Homo sapiens: one gene and its partner. The protein of the gene in region 1 purifies or fractionates together with the protein of each later gene. This does not show direct contact. Each region holds a gene or a part of one and is shown on either strand. Other genes may lie near its edges.

Evidence for each region.
Region 2: the proteins of TCHHL1 (region 1) and PFN3 purify together in Homo sapiens (affinity purification with mass spectrometry; one large-scale study listed by BioGRID and IntAct). This does not show direct contact.

The regions. Positions count from the first base shown.
Region 1 is NC_000001.11:152,086,017-152,090,489, reverse strand, and holds the start of TCHHL1 (trichohyalin-like protein 1), read left to right. Parts: upstream 1-1,425; 5' UTR 1,426-1,470; intron 1,471-2,326; 5' UTR 2,327-2,346; coding exon 2,347-2,484; intron 2,485-2,946; coding exon 2,947-4,473.
Region 2 is NC_000005.10:177,399,547-177,402,324, forward strand, and holds PFN3 (profilin-3), read right to left. Parts: upstream 1,116-2,778; 5' UTR 1,031-1,115; coding exon 617-1,030; 3' UTR 563-616; downstream 1-562. Other genes in the region: F12 (coagulation factor XII preproprotein), read right to left, coding at 2,746-2,778. UniProt on the Homo sapiens protein: Binds to actin and affects the structure of the cytoskeleton. Slightly reduces actin polymerization.

The DNA of each region.
Region 1 (4,473 bases):
CTCCTGACATGTCATAAGTTTTCAATAAACATTAATTCTTTTCTCTTCCACACCCATAAAAATCCTTCAAGTATTTGAAGACAGTTATTATGTCTCCCATAAGTGTTTCTTTCCAATCCAGCCTTGAATATACCCAGTTCTTCATGAGACTGGCCCATGAGCTCCAGAGCAGGAAGATATAACTTACTCAACTCTAAACACTCCAGTTCCTGGCATAGTGTTGAGAAATAGCTGGTACTCTGGGGATATTAACTAATCAGAACTAAGATGACCTTCACATGCCAATTCCAATTCCCAGAAGTCTTCTCCCTTTGGGAGGATGCTGAGAAATTGTTTGTAGGTGTAAAGTATCAGTATGAATGTTTTTCCCCAAAATTTAGTTCCCTTGTATGTTCCTCGATAATCAGGAAATTCAGAATAAGGTTTTTGCTCAATAGCAATGCATCCCTTAGCTTCAGCTTTCTCATATAATTACCCCCATTCCCACCCCATCTTTAACTTGGTCTGTGTCTTTTATATTTGTTTGCATTGATCTGTCTATTTCTTCCATCCTTTGACAAGGAGTGTTTTAAAACATACTCTATTTTTTAAAAATATCTAAGAAAACCATTGAATCTAATTCTTATTTTATTAAATATTCTCTACTAAGAAGGACCCAGATCTAGGAGACAATTAAAATGTTTGCCAGTTCAGCATCTCAGACTCACTTCTGTTCTCAGCTTGATGATTTCAACATCTCCCTTTCCCCTTTACAGGGAGAACACAGTAATATAGATTATTGGTTTCAAGCTCCTTGTATAGTAAAAATGTCTTTAGAAAGCAAATATCAATCACGTTTTTAAAATAGCACAACATAGGTAAGCAAGGCTTTGCACACCAAGCAAGAATTTTTTTTTTTTTCTAACTCTGCCTCTGGGCAAGGAGAGCAAAGCATTGAAACATCTGAATCAACTGGTATCTCCACTTTTGTCACATGGCTAAATGGGGGCCTTTATTTTTAAACACATGATTGACACCCATCTCTCAGGTTTGGGTCAAATACGGGCCATCTTGTGGGCAGACAGAGGAATCAGATGACTTATGAGGTCCCTGCCAGCACTATGATTTGTCAGACAGAAATGTAATTATGTCCTTAGGTTAAAAAATGGGGGAGGGAAGCCAACACTACCTTGAAGAGCCTTCAAAACTATAATCTGCAAAAGTCAGTAAATGAATCAAGAAACCCCCTCCCCTTTCTTTTGATGCATCTGAAGCTAAGATTTAATTGAAACTGCCTAAAGAAGGAAATAAAATTAAGACAACTGACAACAGAGCAGGGGAGACTGGATTTGGTGGTGATGTCAGGTCATTAGACCCAGAGGGTGTCTCCTTCTTAACTGTGCAATTAGGACCTCAATAAAAGGTTCCAGCTCCTGCTGTCAGCTCACAGCCCGCTGCCCCACGTTCTACCTGCTCTCGCTTGTGAACTAGGTAAGTCCATCTGCTTGAGCATACTTGGGATTTCAGTTGCTGTTTTGCTTATATGTGAGATTGCAAGAGGATTTCAAAGGAAACACACTTTAAGTCTATGTCAACCCCTATTAATAATAATAAACTGGGAGCGCCAACCACCCAAATGCATTCCTTGATTATGGAACTTCTTTGATCATTTTCTTTTTAAAAAAAACATAAATTGTTTAGAAGTCATAGGCATGAATATTATTCAACAAGGCACAGGATCAGATCTCTATTGCAATGAAAATGTAGAAGCATTTAAAGGATGGGAAATGAATGAATAAGGGGTCGGGACATGGAATCATGTCTTCTTGGTTAAAGCATGTTGTTACCACCTGCAAACATAGGGGTTAATTTTCTTGGTGTGACTTATCTTTCCACTAGAAGCTTTGCTAACTTTAAAGGTTATACCCTCCTAACCGCAGGAGGCTAGACTGAGCCAAAGGGAGAGGAGAGCAGATAGACACTCTTGGATGAGGCTGGAAGAATGGGTCCAACTCTATTGGCTTCATTTATGCATTTCAATCCTTATGCTTGAGTTCTCTTATCACCTTCCTTTTGCAATGAAGCTTTCTCTGAGCACATGAATGTTGCTGTTTACTGAAGAGTGGGGTGAATTGTCTCTTCTAATACTTACCTATGCTGGGTCTGATTTCACCACAATGTCTGGTACAATACTAAATCACCCCTGGAGTTCAGATATAATATTTTAAGATACAGAATAGAGCAGGGGTTGCAGTGGAGATGGGGGAGGAACAAAAAGGATAATCTTGGTATCTCCTCCCTGAAGGACCCATCCTGGAAAATGAGCTTTGTTTATTCTTTCTCACAGCCTCTCCTGAGTTTGTAAAGATGCCTCAGCTCCTGAGAAATGTCCTCTGTGTAATTGAGACATTCCACAAATATGCCAGTGAGGACAGTAACGGGGCAACACTGACTGGCAGAGAGCTGAAACAACTCATCCAGGGCGAGTTTGGGGACTTTTTTCAGGTGAGCTTCTCACAGAGCTGTGTAAATTCTTTCCAACTCACCCTTTCTTTATAATCCAAGCAAGATGAGCATATGTGATCCCCATCCATTTTACACCTAGCTAACAGTTCTCAGCACTCACTGTCTCTTGAACAACTATTTTCAGTCTCAGTTCCATACTCTGTGCAATTACTTAGAGAAAAAGAGGTTTTCGTCACTGGGATTATTGCTTCTGCAAAGCTGACTTCTGAAAGGAGTCATAAACCATTATGCATCAAAATGCAACTCACAAGTGTTGTAAATGCTCTTTCTCAGGCATAGCTCTCTGATGAAAAATGGCTTGCAGAACCAATAAGTTCTTGCTGTTCTGGGAAAGTTAACCAGTTACTGAGGAATGAGGTCAGAAAAATAGGATTCTTGGGAGACACTTAGGACACTGGACCACATATAAATAAGCTGATTTCTCACTGTGTTTTCATGCAGCCCTGTGTCCTTCATGCTGTGGAAAAAAATTCAAATCTTCTGAATATTGACAGTAATGGCATCATCAGTTTTGATGAATTTGTTCTTGCAATCTTCAACTTGTTGAACCTCTGTTATCTTGACATAAAATCATTACTAAGTTCTGAACTAAGACAGGTGACTAAACCAGAGAAGGAGAAGCTAGATGATGTGGATGTTCAGGCAACCACCGGAGATGGTCAGTGGACAGTGGGAACTTCACCAACTCAAGAAAAGAGGATGCTTCCTTCAGGAATGGCATCATCATCTCAGCTCATCCCTGAAGAAAGTGGAGCAGTTGGAAATAACAGAGTGGACCCATGGAGAGAAGCCAAGACTCACAACTTTCCAGGAGAAGCATCTGAACACAATGATCCTAAGAACAAACACCTGGAAGGAGATGAACAAAGTCAGGAAGTGGCTCAAGATATACAAACAACAGAAGACAATGAAGGCCAACTTAAGACAAATAAGCCAATGGCAGGATCAAAAAAGACCAGCAGTCCCACAGAGAGGAAGGGACAAGATAAGGAGATCTCCCAGGAAGGAGATGAACCAGCCAGAGAGCAAAGTGTTTCCAAGATAAGAGACCAGTTTGGAGAACAGGAAGGAAACTTGGCAACCCAAAGTTCACCACCAAAAGAAGCAACACAAAGACCATGTGAAGATCAGGAAGTTAGAACAGAAAAGGAAAAACACTCTAATATACAAGAACCACCCCTACAAAGAGAAGATGAGCCCAGTTCACAGCATGCTGACCTGCCAGAACAAGCTGCTGCCAGGTCACCATCTCAGACACAGAAATCAACTGATTCCAAGGATGTCTGTAGAATGTTTGACACTCAAGAACCAGGAAAGGATGCTGACCAGACACCAGCTAAAACAAAGAATTTGGGTGAACCTGAGGATTATGGCAGAACATCTGAGACCCAAGAAAAAGAATGTGAAACAAAGGACCTGCCAGTCCAATATGGTAGCAGAAATGGTTCAGAAACATCTGACATGAGAGATGAAAGGAAAGAGAGGAGAGGTCCTGAGGCCCATGGAACAGCAGGGCAGAAAGAACGTGACAGAAAAACTCGGCCACTAGTCCTGGAAACCCAAACACAGGATGGGAAGTATCAGGAACTCCAAGGATTATCAAAATCAAAAGATGCTGAAAAAGGTTCTGAGACACAATATCTAAGCTCAGAAGGAGGAGATCAGACTCACCCTGAACTTGAAGGAACAGCAGTCTCAGGAGAAGAGGCAGAACACACCAAAGAAGGCACAGCAGAAGCATTTGTGAACAGCAAAAACGCACCTGCAGCAGAAAGGACACTGGGGGCAAGAGAAAGAACACAAGATTTAGCACCACTTGAGAAGCAGTCTGTAGGAGAAAATACTAGGGTCACCAAGACTCATGACCAACCAGTTGAGGAGGAGGATGGTTACCAGGGGGAGGACCCTGAGTCACCATTCACACAGAGTGATGAGGGGTCTTCTGAAACTCCCAACAGCCTGGCTTCA
Region 2 (2,778 bases), on another chromosome or scaffold:
TGTAAGGTCTCAAACCCAATTGCGATGGTCTTGGACATGAGCCCTCTCAGTAGGCTCCCCTTGGAGGAATGTGGGCAGAGATGCAGAGGCCTGTGAGCCCCAGAACTGCTTTACAAGCCACCAAGCCCATCCTGTCACCCACTCACAACTTGCTAGTGCTTGAGGTATGAGTGGAGGGGGGAGGAGCAAATTGGCCTCCAGCCTGACACCCTGATGGGGAGAGGTGTTCGCGGGATGGGGAGGGGGCTCCCTTTACTTGTCCTGCCTAATGTGTGGGAATATCTCTGAGAAAGGACGCTAAGGCTGAAACAGACTTTGAGAAGCCCCCACCCTTGGACTCTTCCTCAGCTGCGGAGTCCCTAGGACCCTGGGAACGCGCCAAGGAGCAGCAGTCAGGCCAGGAGCCTCTGCAAGGCGTCCATGGGAGAGCAGGGTGTAGGGCACAGGGGCCTGGCAGCCTCTAGACTCAAAATCCCGGCTCCACCAGGTAACCGTCTTGCAAAGACCAGTTTCCTTATTTACAACTCCCCCCACCGCGCAAGTGGAGGAGGAGCCAGCCGCGCCCAGGTCACAGTTTATTTGGCCCGCGCTACCAGTGGGCGGCCTGGCTGGCCGGCTAGGCGCCCTGCATGCGCAGCCCGCGTATGAGTTCGTGCACCGTCTTGTTGAGGATGCCCCCATGTACGCCGCGTCGGCCCATTAGCACCAGGAGCGCGCGCGGCGCACGGCCCACGCACACGGCGCGCGCGTCCAGCCCCTTGGTGCGTGCGTCCAGCACGCCGTCACCCTCGGCCAGCAGGTGGTCGCGGATGACGCAGCAGCGGCGGCCCCCCACGCTCAGGCCCGCCTGCAGGAAGGTGTGCCTGTCCGGCCCCGTGAGCACGCCCACCTCCTGCGGCGAGATGGCCGCCAGCAGGCCCCCGGGCCGCGAAGCCCACACGCAGCTGTTGTCCGCATGGCCCACGATGGCCACGTCGTCGATGCGCTGGTCCCGCAGCACTGCACTGATGTAGACCTTCCAGTCGCCCATCGCGCTCCGAGTGCGCCCAGCCGCCTCGCACCTCTCGGGGAAATATAGAGGCGCCACGCGGGGAAGGCCTGCGGCGCTGTGAGGCAGGCTGGGCGGGGCTGTGACGTCACACAAGGCGCCGTCCCGGAGCGACCACCCAGGCTGGGGCACGTGGGGCGTGGGCGTTTAGTGCTGTCGCAGTTCTAAGGTTATCCTGTAGGATGGGTTTGGCAGAGCGCAGCGGCTCACTCCTGTAATCCCAGCGCTTTGGGAGGCCGAGGCGGGCGGATCGCTTGAACTCAGTAGCGAGATTATAGTAAACTATTATAGGATCGTGTCGCTGCACGCCAGCCTGAGCCACAGAGCGAGGCCCCGTCTCTAAAAAAGCAAAAACAAATTTTAATTAAAAAAAATTTTTTTGAGATGAGGTCTCACTATGTTGCCCAGGCGGGTCAGGAAGTCTTGAGCTCAAACAATCCTCCCGCCTCAGCCTCTCAAAGTGACGAGATTACAGGCGTGAACCACCGCATCTGGCCAATCTATTTTTAATTTTAAAAAGCTGGTTTTGTGAAAAAAGGATGTTGTGTCTGGACAGCCAGACCTTCACTTGTAAGGGAACCAACCATTCAACCCCCAGATTGTGGTTCTTAAGCATGAGAGAACATCAGAATCCCCCGCAAGGCTGTTAAACAGATTGCTGGGCCCCACCCCAGACTTTCTGTTCAGCAGTATAAAGTGTAGCCCGAGAATTTGTTATGTGTAACAAGTTCCCTGGTGATGGTACTGCTAGCCAAGGGACTCTCAGACCCACTACACTAGTGCGTGTTGGGGTGGGGACAACGATATGTCACCCAGCCCTTAGGGTCCACGCCACAGTCAATGCTCTTTTTTTCTATTTTCTTTTTTCTTTTCTTTCTGTCTCTCTCTTTCCCTCCCTCTGTTCCTTCCTTCCTTCCTTCCTGCCGGTTCAAGTGATTCTCCTGCCTCAGCCTCCTGAGTAGCTGGGACTACAGGCGCACGCCGCCGTGCCCGGCTAATTTCTTGTATTTTAGTAGAGACGGGGTTTCATCGTGTTGCCCAGGCTGGTTTCGAACTCCTGAGCAATCCACCTGCCTTGGCCTCTTAAAGTGCTAGGATTACAGGCGTGAGCCACCGCGCCCGGCCAATGCTAAGTATTTCTAACCACGATTCTCAACCTTGGCTGTACATGGAATTATCTGGGGAGTTTTACAAATATACCACTACCCATGCCCCATCCCTAGACATACTGATTTAATTGGTCTGAGGTGGAACTTGGGCATAGATTGGCTCAAAACGCTCCCCAAGTGATCTTAATGTATGGTCTGAGAACTACTGCTCTGTAAACAAAATGTTAGTTTCTCATAAGGAATAACATGCAGCTTCTCCTTGCACAGGGCTTGGTATACAGTATCCTAGGCTCAGTAAACATTAGCTGGGCTGGCATCTAGATTTTGCACGTTAAGATCTCATAGACCTTGTTCTCTGAGAGCTGTGGAGAAGCTGTGAATCGCTTTTCTGTCTTGGCATTTCCCGGCGGGACCCATGAAGAAAAGAGCTTTCCTTCTCAGCATTTTCAAAGCACTTTATTGAGTTCCTGCGCCATCCTGGCGCGGAGCTGGCCGCACTGGGGGAATGGGACACAATCTTGCCTTCCATGCCCCAGCCACTCTCTCACTGCGGAATCACCAAGGAGGGAAAGATGAGTCCCTGAGCAATCAGGAAACGGTGTGCTCCCGGATCCAGGCCAG